Regions from separate parts of the Homo sapiens genome. Here region 2 is linked to region 1. Evidence: fine-mapped expression QTL. Tissue or cell type: whole blood. Region 1 holds a variant in brackets; the other region holds the start of a gene. All regions are shown on one strand. Distances are between the middles of the regions.

Evidence for each region. PIP is the estimated chance that this variant, and not a neighbour inherited with it, causes the effect.
Region 2: LRRC8C starts here. The variant in region 1 is fine-mapped to the expression of LRRC8C in whole blood (TOPMed, PIP 0.96).

Annotation. Positions count from the first base shown.
Region 1 is chr1:89,777,212-89,785,350 of GRCh38, reverse strand. All of the region lies in intron 1 of LOC107985744 (a long non-coding RNA gene), which reads right to left. Among named protein-coding and RNA genes, the nearest start is that of LRRC8D, 40 kb to the left of the region's middle. The variant T/C (reference allele first, on the strand shown) is at 3,434.
Region 2 is chr1:89,628,707-89,636,845 of GRCh38, reverse strand. It overlaps LRRC8C (leucine rich repeat containing 8 VRAC subunit C), which reads right to left and starts at 3,726. Exons shown (of 3, transcript NM_032270.5): 1 at 3,524-3,726. LRRC8C-DT (LRRC8C divergent transcript) reads left to right here and starts at 3,952. Exons shown (of 3, transcript NR_033981.1): 1 at 3,952-4,189; 2 at 4,637-4,830. RefSeq lists enhancers at 2,755-2,804, 2,835-2,884 and a silencer at 3,265-3,924.

The sequences.
Region 1 (8,139 bases):
CAGTCCCTAAATCATGGAGTATCCTTGAGACCTTTTTTCTCATCAGCAAATCCTGCTGAATCTAATTTCAAAATAGATCCAACATCCAATTGCTTTGTGCTACAGTGATTACCATATTGGTCATTCCTCCCAGGTATCCTCTTCAGAGCTGAGGTCCCTGTCCTCCACCTGCTGGGAATGTTGGCTGTCAAAGGCATACAGGTGTGTCCCTCATGGGGATTGCCTTGGCTGAGAACTGCCTTGCTCTCCCAAGGGGCAGCCCCCCACCAAAGCCTGGCCAATGTATGGATACGAACACCTGGCCACCTTGCCTGTGGTAGACAGAATGATAGCTTAATCCCCAGACCTGTGAATGTGTTAGGTTACATGGCAAGGGGAAGTAAGGTTGCTAACCAGTTGACGTTCTGATGTAGAGATTGTCCTGGATCATTTGGGTGGGCCCAATGTAATCACAAGCCTCCATGTAAATGAAAGAGGGAGGCAGGAGTCAGAGTCAGAGGAAGAGATGTGTTGATGTGATGGCAATTGCTGGGATTCAGTTGGCCTCTAAAAGGTGCAATGCAGGCAGCTTCTAAGCTTCTAACAGCAGGAAAAGGCAGGGAAACAGATCCTCCCTCTCAAGTCTCTAGCAGAATGCAGCTCTGCTGACACCTTACTAGTCCCATGAGACTCATTTCGGGCTCTTACAATTCTGTTATTTAGAATTGTAAAATAATACACTTCTGTTGTTTTAAGCCACCAAGCTTGTGGTAATTTGTTATAGCAGCCATGGAAAACTAACCTAATTTTGGACAACTCTGAAGGGCCATCCCAGCTCCAGGGCTCCCCATAGGATTGGCTGAGGCGTCAGATGCCACCATCTTTCAGGTCAGCTTCTCTCTCTGACCTATTATGCTTTCCTCAAGTCCTGACACAAGTATCTCCCAAGAGCACGCTCTATAACCCTGTGGATGTAATTGCTCATCTCAGAGTTAGTTTCCAAGGATCCAGATCTAAGACAATATCTTACCTGGGTTGTTATAATAGCCCCCTAAATGGTCTCCTTGTTTATATCCTTAACTCTGCAGTCTCTGCTCAACATGGGAGCTGCAAAGACTCTGTTAGAACATAAATTAGATCAAGACACTCCATAGCTTTCCTTTCCACTCAAAGTAAATGTCAAATTCCTTTTTTTTTTTTTTTTTAAGACAAGGTCTGGCTCTATCACCCTGGCTGGAGTGCAGTGGTGCAATTTCAGCTTACTCCAGCCTCCACTTCCCAGGCTCAATCCATCCTTCCTCTGCCTCCTGAGTAGCTGGGACTATAAGTGCGTGCCACCATGTCTGGCTAATTTTTTGTATTTTTGGTAGAGACAGGGTTTTGCCGTGTTGCCCAGGCTGATCTCAAACTCGTGAGCTCAAGTGATCCACCTGCCTCAGCCTCCCAAAGTGCTGAAATTACAGGTGTGAGCCACCACGCCTGGTCGAGGTCAGATTCCTTACAATGACATAAAAGACTTCATAATCTGCCCAACCACCCTGTCCTTACTTCTTCAGCCTCACCTCCTGTGACTCTGTCCCTTGTTCACTCCACTTCAGCTACACTGCATCCTTTTTGACCATGCCAGTAAAGCTCGGGCCCCAGGCCTTTTGCATTGACTCTTTGCTCATATGCCATCTTTTCCCTGAGGTTCCTGATCACTCTATTTGAATGGCAATTGTCCCTCATCCTACACCAGCACACCCTATCCCTGTTACCTGCATCGTTTTCTGTATGGGCCTGTAAAGGGGCAGCTTAACTTCAAAATGCATTTTAAAATTTTTTTTCCTTTCTCTTGGGTTTCAAGATGTAACCTTGAAGCAAACTGCAGAAGCCTTTTCCCTTAGCCTTAAAATAGACTCCCCATCCCTCCCTTTCTCACCGTATACACGCCCTTCACATTTATCTAACTATATGTTAGTATCTAACTAGGTGCCTACTTAGAAGTTCCAGGGACAAATCCTGAGAGAGACAGATCAAGCCTGGAGACCCAGCTGCAGAATTCCAGAGATTACCTCAAGGTGGCTAATCAACAACCTGGCCATTGTTGAGATGAACGCCAGCCCACACTCCAGGTGGACCGGGACCCAAGATAGCCACTGGAATAAAACTCAGTGCAATTCCTGCATCCCTTCCATATCAGGTCTTCCCTTTTTAAACGCTTGCCTTTCCACCTCAAAATTCAAACTGGTTGCTTTGGATAGGAATCCAGCCACTTCCCCTTAGCCAACTTTGGAAATAAAGTCAATTTTCCCCTACCATACCTCGCTCTTGTTAATTGGACTCTGCAAGCAGTGACTGAAACTGTGTTCAGTTACAGGCTTATAACTTTCCAATATACTATATAGTTTATTTACTTTGTTTATTATTTTTCTTCTCTCATTAGGCTATACGCTCTGTGAAGGCATGTATTTTTATTCACTTACTGCTCTAGCCCCAGTGTTTAGGACTGTGCCTGGCAAAGAGTGGCACTCACTAAAAACTTGCTGAATGAATAAGTGCAGTGCACTATTCTAAAGTATTTAGAACAGTGTCTGACACATAGTGAATGCTCAATAAGGGCTAGCTATTAATATTATTTTTGCCAGTGGAGAGGGGGTCATGAGATTCCTGGCATTGCAGAAGCTACTCATATATATATAGCATTTGATCCCGTGATCCTGCAAGAAGTGGAAGACAAATAATATGCACATGTTAATTAGGAGCTTAGTTTCCTTGTTTTTATGTGTGTGAACCAACCCCTGGGATGAGTTGAATTCCCTTTAGAACAGATGTAAAACCATAGATCTGAGTCTCTCACATGTACCTAGGAGGTGATGAAGGGCAGAGAGGAGACTGTGGGCTGGAGCTGTTTGGAACCACAATTTGGGCCCAGAGAATCCGAGCTCAGGGAAGTCTGATCTGGCCCCAGGTCAGGTCTGATTGATTTTAGGGTCACTTTGGGAAATGAGGAAAGTCCAGCAGTTATACTGCAACAGAAAGGCTGATGATAGTTTATGCTGATTCTGAACTTTTCTTTATTGGAAGAGCTGCCTTTTTAAAATGAGATATGTATAAAGAAAGAACCCAGAGAAATATGTATTTGTTTCTGGTTCCTGGCATAGAGCTCCTAAAGCTCTAGTAATTCTCTGAGTGATAAGAGCATCTTTGTTCTAATGAGGCAACTCTTGCTGGGCTCCTTTATAACTTTGGGATTGAGGTTGGTTGCCAGGAAGACCCAGTCTTGATGAGAAACTTGGAAAATTCAGTCCCATCCTCCAAGGGAGAGAAGCTAGGGCTTCAGTTAATAATCAATCATGCCGACATGATGAAACCTCCATAAAACCCCCTAAATACTTGGTGACCACATCAAGGTGCTGGGAGGGTGCCAGAGGAAACTCCACGCACCACCCCCACACCTCGACTTGTGCGTCTT[T/C]TCCATTTGGCTGTTTCTGAGTTTGGCTGTTTCTGAGTTTATAATAAACTGGTACTAATATGTAAAGTGTTTAACTAAGTTCTGTGAGCTGTTCTAGGAGGGGGTTGTGGGAACCCCTGATCTGTAGCTGGTGGGTCAGAAGCCCAGATGTCCTGGACTTGTGATTGGCATCTGAAGTCTGATGTGGAGACAGTTTTGTGGAACTGAGCCCTTTCACTTTTAGCATCTGACACCAACTCTGGCAGTTAGTGTCAGAATTGAATTGAATTGTACAACAGCCAGTTGTTGTCTGGAGAGTTGGAGAATTGGTTGGTGGGAGGAAAAATCTCATTTGGTGCCAGATGTGTTGTGAGAAAAGAAAAAAAAAAAAAACAGCTCATGAGCTCTGTCTTTTCTTGAACTGACTGTGCTGTTACCATGCAGTAATAGTTGAAGGTGAGATCCTTTCTTTTGGTATGTTTTAGGGAAAAAAGCCCAGAAACATACTTTAAAATTGGAAAGAGCAAGAGTATATGGATGTGTATGTGTAAGACATTCTGATTCCTAGGGGGATACGCAACCATCTTTATTATTATTATACATTTTTAGAGTCGAGGTCTTGCCATATTGCCCAGGCTGGCCTCAAACACCTGGACTCATGTGATTCTCCCACCTTAGCCTCCTGAATAGCTAGAACAATAGGCATGTACCACTGCACTCGGCCACAACAATTTTAAGAAAAAAATCTGGCCTGACAAGGTGGCTCATGCCTATAATTCCAGCATTCTGGGAAGTCAAAATGAAAGGATTACTTAGGCTAGGAGTTAAAGACAAGCCTGGGCAGCATAGTGAGACCTCATCTCTACAAAAAAATTAAAAAAATTAGCTGGGTGTGGTGGCATGTGTTCAGGAGGCTGAGGTGGGAGGATTGCTTGAGCCCAGGAGGTCAAATCTGCAGTGAGGCATGATGGCGCCACTGCACTCCAGCCTAAGTGACAGAGTGAGATCTTGTCTAAAAAAAAAAAAAAACTATCCTGCTTGATATAGATCTAGATTTGTAGTCATCATAGAATAACAACATGGCCAATTCTGCCATCTGTTGGTTGTATGAGCACTATGAATAATCAACTCTGTGTGTGAGACACTTGAAATCATTGAATGCTGGAATGAAAAACCATATAATGCATAAGCTGTCAGGGACAGGCGGGGTCAGTCCTGTTTCTCATGATCTTTTTGAAATAGATAGACACTTTATAACCTTTACTGCTTGTTCAATTCAAAAACAGACAACACATTGGAATGTCGTCGTGGCACTGAAGCTCAGCTCTTTTTTGATCCCTATTGTTGATGTTAGCACCTATTCAGATCCCTTTATAATGACACTGGAAATTACATATGTGAAAATATGTATACAGTTATTCCTGTAATCTTTTGTTAAAAAAGGTTAATTTCCAATTTTTAAATAATTCACTTTAAAGATATGGGATGGGGGCTCTTTCCTGAAATTTAGATAGTATTCAAATCATAGCATAGTGCCTGAGGACTTCCACATCTATTGCATACTGCTTGCTTAATGAAAGTTGAATTTCTAATGCCTTTAAAAATTAATGCTTTGGCTGGGCGCGGTGGCTCACGCCTGTAATCCAGAACTTTGGGAGGCTGAGGTGGGCGGATCACGAGGTCAAGAGATCATGACCATCCTGGCCAACATAGTGAAACACTGTCTCTACTAAAAATACAAAAATTAGCTGGGCGTGGTGGCGCATGCCTGTAGTTCCAGCTACTCGGGAGGCTGAGACAGGAGAATTGCTTGAACCCAGGAGGCGGAGGTTGCAGTGAGCTGAGATTGCGCCATTGCACTCTAGCCTGGTGACAGAGTGAGACTCTGTCTCAAAAAAAAAAAAGAAAAATTAATGCTTCTTAAAGAAGAAAATATCCTTCTACTCAGTGAGGAAAACATGATATATATGCTTATAGAGTATAACTTTTGGCTCTTGAATACTATACATTTTTCTTTGTCATACTTTTGTTAACTTATTACAGTATCTTGAAAACTTTTGAAATAGCACACGTTGCTCAAGTATGTTTTTCCATTTGGAAAGTCTTAGTGCTTTTTCTACTGCACTTTTACTTAGTGATTCATTTTCCATCTTGTCTCAGGACCCAAGATGAATTGAACCAAACATGCAACCGCCCGCCCCCATCTTTACTGTTTTTCATCCTATTTTTGGTGGGCCATTTTATAAATTTAATTTTGAATATTAGTCTAATCTTCTAGGGTGTGATAATCTTGTCCAGAATTGCCTGATCTTCCCACTCACTCTTGCAGCCCAGGGGCTAATCATCTCCCTACTCCATTGACCTAGAGTGATGATTGATATTTCTAGCCACCTCGGTCTCCACCTATATGATTTTTAAAAATCTAATTTGCTTCAGATAGCCTGTGTGACAGGGATCATTTCCACAACTTCAATTCTTTACTGAGGGAATAGTCAGTGAACAGATTGAAGCCCAATGCTATCACTTTGTGCCTTCCCAATTTCACTTCTGAGTCTGCGTCAAAACAACACACACTTGAACTTGTATTTTTTTAAAAAATCTGCTTTCGTGCTCATAATCTTTTTCAATCTCTTTTCCTGGTATCTAAAATATCTTAGCAACAACTCTCATCTCTGAGCAACCATCAGGGTATAGTTTCAAATACTACAGCAATCAAAGCATCCTACTTCATTACTTGCTGATTTTTTCCAGGCAATCTATATTTATTTTGTGAATATAACATCAATATAGAAGCACATGATTTACTACCCTTCTCTCTAGTCCTCAAGAAAACTCTTTCTGCGACAAGCAAATTTCCAAGACTCCGTGACTTTTTCATTTTTTTTTTTTTTTTGAGACGGAGTTTTGCTCTTGTGGCCCAGGCTGGAGTGCAATGGCGCGATCTTGGCTCACTGCAACTTCCACCTCCTGGGTTCAAGCAATTCTCCAGCCTCAGCCTCCTGAGTAGCTGGGATTACAGGTGTCTGCCGCCATGCCTGGCTAATTTTTTATTTTTAGTAGAGACAGGGTTTCACCACGTTGGCCAGGCTGATCTTGAACTCCTGACCTCAGGTGATCCACCAGCCTCAGCCTCCCAAAGTGCTGGGATTACAGGTGTAAGCCACCGTGCCCGGCCGACTCTGTGACTGTTAAAGAGCCTTTGTTTGCTGCTGATTGATTAAACTCAGTTATCATTTGAAAACTTCCCAAAGAGGCCAGACTATATTCTGATGAGAAAAATCACTATGATGATATACTAACATGAACTCTGTGAACCTCACCATTAGCCAGAGATTTAAAAATATTTTAAATTGAGGTATAATATATAAACAGCAAAGTGTACAAATCCTGTGTAAACTTGATGAATTTACACACACACACACACACACACCCATGTAGCCACTGCCTAGATCAAGATATATTTCCAACAGCTCAGAAGGCTTCTTTGTCTCTCTTATGTCTCTTCTCAATATCCCACTTCATGTAACCACAGACCTGACTTCTATAACCATAGATTTGTGTTGCCTGCTCTCTAACTTAATACTAAAAGGAAACATAATATATGTATAGTTTTGTGTCTGGCCTCCTTTCTTATCAGTATGTCAATGAGATTCATCCATGTTTGTACTTAACGTAGGGCTGCATTCTTTTTTATTACTGCCTTGTTCCACTGTTTCAATATTCCACAGTTTATTCATCTATTCTATTACCGGTGAACATTTGGGTTGTTTACAATTTTGGGCTATTGTAAATAAAACTATTTAGTCTGAGATTTTCACATATAAAAGAGCTATACACAAATTCTGCTGTTTGGACAATCCTTTATGTGATGTTAGACACAGAGTAGGAAATTAAATCAAGGCTGGGCGCAGTGGCTCATGCCTGTAATCCCAGAATTTTGGGAGGCCAAGGCAGACAGATCACGAGGTCAGGAGATTGAGACCATCCTGGCCAACAATCGTGTCTCTACTAAAAATACAAAAATTAGCTGGGTGTGGTGGCGTGTGCCTGTAATCCCAGCTACTCGGGAGGCTGAGGCAGAAGCATCACTTGAACCCGGGAGGTGGAGGTTCCAGTGACCCGAGATTGCACCACTGCACCCCAGCCTGGTGACGGGGCGAGACTCCGTCTCAAAAAAAAAAAAAAAAAAAAAAGTCTTCTGTGAATCAAAGGATACAACTTTTCTTGTGTGTATCAAAGGATACTTTAAAAGCAAAAATACAACCTACTAGGTGGGGGGAAATATTTGCAAAGCACATATCTGATAAAGTATTAATATCTGGAATATATGAAGAACACCTAAAACTCAAAAATATAACTAAAAACACATGAAAAAATGCTCACCATCACTGGTCATCAGAGAAATGCAAATCAAAACCACAATGAGATACCATATCACACCAGTTAGAATGGCAATCATTAAAAAGTCAGGAAACAACAAGTGCTGGAGAGGATGTGGGTAAATAGGAACACTTTTACACTGTTAGTGGGACTGTAAACTCGTTCAACCATTGTGGAAGTCAGTGTGGCGATTCCTCAGGGATCTAGAACTAGAAATACCATTTGACCCAGCCATCCCATTACTGGGTATATACCCAAAGGACTATAAATCATGCTGCTATAAAGACACATGCACACGTACGTTTATTGTGGCACTATTCACAATAGCAAAGACTTGGAACCAACCC
Region 2 (8,139 bases), 150 kb after region 1:
AGAATTTTAAAAAAATTTTAAAATAGCATTAGGAGTGGGCCGGGTGCTGTGCCTCATGCCTGTAATCTCAGCACTTTTGGAGGGGTACGTGTTGTCTGAATTATAAGTGAACTGACAAGGATCTGGAGGGAAACAGGCAGGCTCATGAAGGAGGTAGCTTTTATGCTGAGCCTTGTAGGAGATGCAGAATTTCAGCTGGTGGAGGCTTGGTCAAGGGTGAGGTGTGTGGTGGGGAGAGACTGGCATTGTCATGGTACCCTGAGTGATATACAAGGCTAAGAGATCAGGAGAGGCAGAAAAAAGGAAAGTATGTTTGCCAAAAAATACAAATTCCGATCCATCAACATATTGTTAGTAAAGTAAAAATAAAATAAAAGAGTAAGAGCAAAGGAAAAACTATAGAATGAGTACATGTTTCTGACTCAAGACAACAAAAAAGGATGTGATTCAAAAGTTAAAGATGCTAAGAATCAGATTAGACCTTTGTATAATTACATAAAGAGTGAATCACTGATAGCAATGACTAATCACTACGTGCATGTAAAATATACATAAAGTGAAATACAGCAGAAGTTTCTACCAGTGCTAGGATACACTGGTGTTAATCCTTACTGAGCACCTACTAGGTGACAAGAGCTGTCCTTTACATGCACTATTACAAGTAATCTGCACAGTGATCCAGCTAGGGAGGCTTTATTAATCCCATTATACAAGAGGAAACCAGGGTTCAAAGAAGTTGAATAATCTGACCTCATTTGCACTCCTACTGCACGGCAGAGTCCGAATTTGACAGCAGCTTTTTCTGGAGGCCATTCTCTTTACCCCATGCCAAACCAGAATGATTTATAGTTCAAAAGGAATCAAGTAGATTCAAGGATACCTCCATGGTTATGTAACCCTCATTAGTTGTAATATGCTTTTATGAGTGATCTGAAACTGGAGATACAGTCAACACTCCAGAAATGAAGTATAAAATCTTGGGAGTGTGTTACAGCCCATGAGACCATCATTGTCATGTCAGTGATAATAGCTGATGGGCAGGAGTAAATTGTCCATAAGGTTAAGCTCTGGATCAGTCATTTAAGAGAAATCAGTGGCAAGAACATGGGTTTTAGAAACAGATGGCCTTGATTCAAAATTGGAATTCTGTTATATGGAAAACGCTGGGCAGAAAACTTTACAATCTCTGTTTCCTCATATAGTCACTATGGTGAGTTAACAACAAATTTATATAGAAAAAATAAATAAGCAGCTTTGGATAATAAAAAAAAGTATATCATTAAGACTAAGGAGGCTTGGCTTCATTCAGGCACTAACTTAGCTGCATAGTCTTCAGCCAAATCAGAAACTCTGAACTTCCTTCTTATGTAAAATGTGGATGGCACCATTTACCTTAGGGGTTCATTGTAAGAACCTGAGATAATGTGTATTAGGTATCTAGCATGCAGCTAGATTATGTTATAGCAATGTACCATATTAAATCATTAACACAATTCTTGGCAAAATAAATATAGTTTCCACCTCATTTCATTTTAAACTTAGGCTCGCTCTATTATAATGTCATAGGTGACTATAACTTAATAATACTATAGAGTATTAAAAATCATAACAATTTGGTAAAAATTGAACACTTGGGAGTTAAACATATTTCTAACTTTGTATTGTTTTTTAAAAGATAAACTTCATGGAAATAAAGTGCAACATTTTCATTCATTTATCTTACAGCTCCTAATGCATTATTTTCACTAAAAGCATTCCCTTTTAAAAATACATTTCATTAAAGTGCTTAATCTGAGAAATAATAGATTAGTACTATTAATAAAGGCTTGATTTTATTAATAAGAAAATTGTTAAATATACTTGGTATCTCTGATACAATTGTTGGGTTGATGGGTCCTGTCTGTGCCCAATCTATTATGTGAACCATGGCAAATATCCATCTTTGCAAAACTGCCCTACATCCCCCTCAAAGGAAACAAACTGACCCCAAGACAGAACTTAATCACTCCAGAGTAAAGCAAACCAATTATAGCCTTGGCCTTCCCTGTTAAAGCAAGTCACAAGAAATGCAAATATCCTAGACTAGAGCTGTATACATTTAATGTTTGTTTACACACTCAACACATTGTTTATGAATTGAGCGAGTTTTATGCAGCTCAGATTACGTTTTGGGTTTTCAACAAATTATTTAAAAATAAACAGAATTTATAAATGTATAAAAATTATTGGCTCTGGCGATTTTGCAGCATTGTGCTAACCAAGAGGACTACTCCACTTTTACTCCTTTTTCGTCTAAATGGCATCTTAATGACCTGCCCACGCTGAAGCCTCATCGATGCTTTGGGAAACCATCACATACCTGTCGGGAAATGTGACTGTTGGTTAAGGCTACGTTTCTCACACTACCGCGAAAGAAGTATGTGACTTACAAACGGCTGCGATTTCCTTTACCTATTCCTTCCTTCAAAGGCTGCTTTAAATGGAGGTAATTCAAGCCTCCCCGTGCCAAACACCGGCACTCCAACAAAGATGGATTGGTTCTTATTTTTTACTTTGAGGATGGGAACCTGAAAATGTTTCCTAACGTTTGCTGAGGCTTTAACATGTTTAAGGAATTTGAAACCAAGGGAAGTTTAGCCGTAATACTCTGAAATATCCGCATTAGGATGCGGGCTAGGTGTCCGGCTGTTGCAAAACTACGGAGGATGCGAGGTTTGGAAGAAACTGTTTGGACTTTGCTGTATACCGGGCAGGCGTGGGGGTTGGGGAGGGAAGAACCGGCTGAGGGAGAAAAGAAAGGCATTCGTGTCCACAGAACACATCTAAGGCTCCTGAGTTGCTAACTCCATCCCTAATCATCTCATTGGTGGGAACCAGCTGGAAAGGGAAAGATCAGCGAGCCTAGGCGTGGGATGAAGGCAGCGGTTTTGGCCTCAACCGCTGGCCTAAACACCTGGCTTCTGGGGCCCGCCCGATCAAGCTGAACCCCTTCCCTCCTGTCCTGCAGGTGAGCACACGGTGCTCTCACGTTTCTTCGAGAAACCTTCCAATTCCTTTCCCTGCCCAAAAGTGCTAACTTCAAGGGTTCGGAGGTGGCAGGGGGGTGATAGACCGGAAAGGACTGGCCCCGGGGTCTCAGAGATTTTCGAGGTAGGAAAGAACAACGATCGCCCCGGCCACGGACGCATTTCCCCTCGCGGACCGCCCCCCCACCCCCGCGCCCAGTCTGCAGGACCTGCCGCTGCGGCGCGGCGTTGGGCGCCAGGCTGAGATCCTCGCGCGGCCGCTCGGGCTAGCGCGGATTGGGTGGGGTAGGGGTTGGCGGGCTCCTGAGCCGCAGTAGCGGAAGGTTCCCAGCACCACACGCCGGGCGGGCAACCACATTCTGCCTGTCTGAGAGCCGGGGGGAAGCAAGGACGCGAGTGAGGCGGGGCGAGTCCCGGTCCGGCGCGCACAGCGGACCGAGCGGGTGGCCCTCTGCGGGCTGCCCCTCTCCATCCCTCCGCGGATCCCCCGCCCTTACCTCCGGGCGCGAGAGTGTCGACTGGAGAAGGTGCTAGGGAGCGGCGAGCTGCCTGGGGGTCGGGCTCAGCGGCTGCCAGGGACGGCGGCGTCGCCCGCGGGGTCGCTGCTCATGGCTTGTCGCGCCCGAGCACTGCGGCCGCGGCCACGGCGGCGCCTTCCTCCTACTTCTCTTCGCGGGCTTCCAGCCGGGACGCAGCTAACGCCCCAGCCCCGCAAGCCCTCCTCCCCTCCGCCTCCCCGGCCGCGGACGGAGCCGCCTCCAGCGCCGCCCCGCACGCAGCCCGGCTAGCGGCAGCCAGCGCCGCCCAGCGCCCGGCCCCGGGGTCGCCACCGCCCGCCGAGTCGACTCCGCGGTGCCAGCCCCGCTGTGACGCAGGCCGCGCCGCCCGGGAACTTCCTCCCCTGCAGAGACCACCTCGCTCCCGGGACTCGCCAGCGAGGGATGCCGCCGGCCGCCGGGGGCCTTCTCCAGGACCAGGAGAGAAATCCTCTCTCCGCTTCACGACGCGGCCACTCCCACCCCTGAGACGCCCACCTGGCGGACTCTGAGGGAGGATTCGGCTGCGTCTAATACCACCTCCACCCCTCATCCCTCACAATGCGCGGAAAACCACAGGCGGCTGTGCGCGCAGCGTCGGCTCAGCCACCGCAGCTCCTCCCCTGGGTAAGTTAGAGGGGAGCAGCCACCACTAAAAATAGCCCTTCTGGGAACTCCTCCGAAGGCCAGGGTCAGGATGAAGATAACCCCTCCACAGGAGAAGCGAAGGCCTCCTAAGAGAAGGGTGGGGAGGGGACGGTGGGATAGAATGAGGAAGATGGAGAAGGAGAAAAGCAAAACCCAATATCCTTGGATCATGAAGCCCTTGAGCCCCTTGACAACCAAGTCTCCTTTCAGGCCGGAATCCCCAACTGCACCGCCCCTGCAATACGGGCTAAGGGGCAGATTCCAGGGAGACTCAGTTGGAATGCCCCGCCTACAGCTCCCGCATAAAGGAGTTGACGGTGCACAGCAAAACCACCTGTTGTTTAACGAGTATGGAGGGAGGGGTTCTCTCTCATTGATTGATCTGAACCGTGCTTTTCTTCTCCCCATTTTCCCACCCAATTTCAGGATGAAAAAGCACTCTGACGTCTTGAAAGCTGGCAGCTCTCTGTTTGGAAAATCTCTGCCCAGTGAAAAAATGTACCGACAAGATTACTAAGTAACACAGTCTTCTGGGAATGCCTTATCAATGCCAGCTATTTGAAGAGCACCCAAAGTCAAACTAGTGCTCCGCGCTGGCAGTCTGGAAAAGGCAGATGTATGTGAGTAGAGAAACTGATAGACAACTAGTTGCTGGCCAGTTGGCCTGTTTTCGTGCTACAAGCCTTCAGAAAACAGTCGCCTCCTTTTACCACGTTTCTATTTCTAAACCAAAATGAAAAGGACGTTTGTTCAAAAGATATTCTCTTGGGCTTTACATTGCTTTCCCCCTGCTCACTCAGCAAAATCCTACACTTTTTTTCCAATTCCAATGCTGCTGTTGGGTGTCCTTCCCAGAAGACAACCTTAAATTCTCTTAGGCCTTAGGAGCTGAATCTAACACCAGTCTTAATTAACCTACAACAAGACAAAAATTTAGGTCCGGGCTTACCTCCTAGTCAGCAGATGGGAAAAATTCCTAGAGAGTCTCTGGGAAAAAGGCAAAGGCTAACTTTAGCAGTTTGCTAGAAAAAAAAAAATTCAAGTACCTTGTAAGTCACCAGGGTAGATGCAGCAATACTCTCTAAGGTAGCTTTACCTCTTCAATTCTCTTACCTTACCTGAATTTAAACACAGTGAGGCAAGTACCAAGGTCACAACCCTCCTGTGGAGGGCCTTATTCTGCAAGGGCTCTCTGATATACTTCTATCTTTGTACCGTTGGCACCTGACCACAAGCTTAGGCATCCCTGAAATGCTCCCTTGCTACCCAGTGTCAAGGAATCATTGAACCTTAGACTTTGTACTCAGGTGAACCAGGATGAAATCCCTATTCTTCCAGTTTAAACTTAGGAAATTTACTGTTCTTTTTATCTGCCCCCTCCCCACCACCCACATCCCCTTATCATCCCTATAGGTATAGTACTACAGGGTGCTGTGAGAATTAGCTAATATGCTCAAAGCACCAAGAACAGTGCCAATCACTTTGTAAGTAGTCAGTAAATGAGAGCTACTATTGTACTTAACTACTCTTCACTGAAAGCAAAAGAACCAGGAATAGCAAAAAGGTTTGGAAACCTGGGATCTGAATCCCCTGCAAGTTGAGTCCACCCCAAGTTGCTTTATTGCAATACTTTTGGCTACTCTTGTGTCTGCCTTCTAATTGGATCAACTGGGTAGTTCTTCACGTGTAGGCAGGTGATTCACATGCACATTAATGCTTGAAAGCCACTAGTCTAAAAACTATGCTACACTGGTTAGTTCACCTCTTCTTATTTTGTAGCATGTAAACCTTAAATCTAGTGATCTTACCTCAGTCCACCTAATTCACATTAACATCCACACTTAGCAAGCTCTCTGTAAAGGACTGGTAGAATTAGCAATCAGTCAACTTGAGTGAGGGTCTTAAAGAAGTACAAGGCTTATTCTCCGACTTCAGGGTGTTCATAGTTCATGGGAATCATGCATACACACAAACCAGAATAAACCATTTTGAAGCAAATGTGCTTGAAGTTCAGCACATCTCCAGGAAGGAGAGGGTACTGTGAGCTAGATGAACTGGGTGCACAGACTCTGTCTTGACCTTTCACTTTATACCCAATTCTTTAGGCTAAATTTTGACATTCTAATTGGACTTCCAGAGTTAGTAGTTCTCACACTAAAGACTGTGTAATTACAAGTTAACCATGTACAGGTTGGTGATAGAAGCAGAAGTAGATATTTCTGGGCTATGCAGGGCTATGGTAAGGGATTTGGAATGAAATAGGTCTGGGCTTAAATCTTGTATCTCTAGCTATGAACTTCAGTTTCCTCATCAGTCTATTGGAATATAACTACCTTTTAGGGTTGTGGTGAGACTTAGAATATCTGTAACCCCTCTAGTGGGTTGTATGGTAACAGCAATTGTGTCACATTGTTGTTTTGTTGTTAGCTGTAAGAAAACTCAGGCTGGGCTGAGTTGTTCCTTGAAGGCGTAATTAATTAATTTTTTCTGAGACAGAGTCTCATGCTGTGTGATCTCGCTGACTGCAACTTCCGCCTTCCAGGTTCAAGCAATTCTCCTTGCCTCATCCTCCTGACTAGCTGGGATTACAGGTGCCCGCCACCACGCCCAGCTAATTTTTGTATTTATTTATTTTTTTTAGTAGAGATGGGTTTTCACCATGTTGGCCAGGCTGGTCTCAAACTCCTGACCTCAGGTGATCCACCCGCCTTGGCCTCCCAAAGTGCTGGGATTATAGGCATGAGCCACCACGCCTGGCCTGAAGGCATAATTTAAAAGTCACCTTCTCTATGAAGCCTCCACAGGTTCTAGGCAAGTATAACTCTTCCTTCCTTGTGTGACCACAGCACTTACCATGGCATGCTCTCATTTGTCTCTTTACATGCCTCTTCACTACAGAGTCTGGGAGCCTCTCCAGGGCAGGGCTGTATCTTGATTCACTTTTATGTCCATTATCAATACCCTGCACAGGACCTGATATTAAATATTGAAATAATGAGTTTTTAAGTGTTTCAGTTTCTTGTATTGGTTCTGACTTTCAGTATAACTCTTATTATACTACAGGCTCTAAAACCTGAACCCTTTAGCTCATAAATAATTCATACTAAATTTATGTATTATGTATATGTATCTGCTTAAACCTTGATGATGTCAATGCTGGGATTGTTCTTTCAGATCAACCTGCTATTCTTGTTTTGTTTTGCATTTGATTTCAGTTGATCCTACCTGGTAAGAGTGCAAGTAAAATCTACATTCTAAACCAAAACCACCAGCAGGATTTTACGCTGCATTCTCTATCCACCCTGTGCACATCTGCTCCCCATACCATTTCTGAGCTTTGTGGGAAGAGGCTGAGCTAAAAGAAAACGTTGTTGTTTTAAGTTTCAGTTGTTTAGACTGTTGCAACCATTAGCACTTTCTGAATTAATACCTGCAAGATAAATGCTACCTTTAGCAACAGTTTTGAAATCCTTGACTCTGTGCCATTAAAAATGCTAGACAGGGAAAAATAAAACCTTCCCTAGAAAATTCTTTTGCCCAGAAAGTTGCCTGAGAGGTAATGTCAAATGTGGACTTGATCCCAAAATGGCAGTTGAATTTGTACCAGAGGAGATGGTGGTCTATTGGGGCTAAAAATGATACCCCAAAATGAAGGAATAAAAAGCAGCCTCAGAAGCAAAGTCTCTGTCTAGCTTTCTCCTGCCCTCCTGTCTCTCACTCTCTTATTCTCCCTTGAAGCAAGCCATAGAAACTGGAATCCTTCTTCCCTGAGGTGGGTCATATAAACCAGAACCTTTTCCCCAAAACCAGCCTTAGAGCCTAAACATTTTACTCTAATCTTCTCCCTCCCTTCCCTTTCTCTTTCTTGCTAACTGCTGGCCATAAAGAAATTAAGACCCTCATTCCAGGGGGTCCTACCCCATACCTGG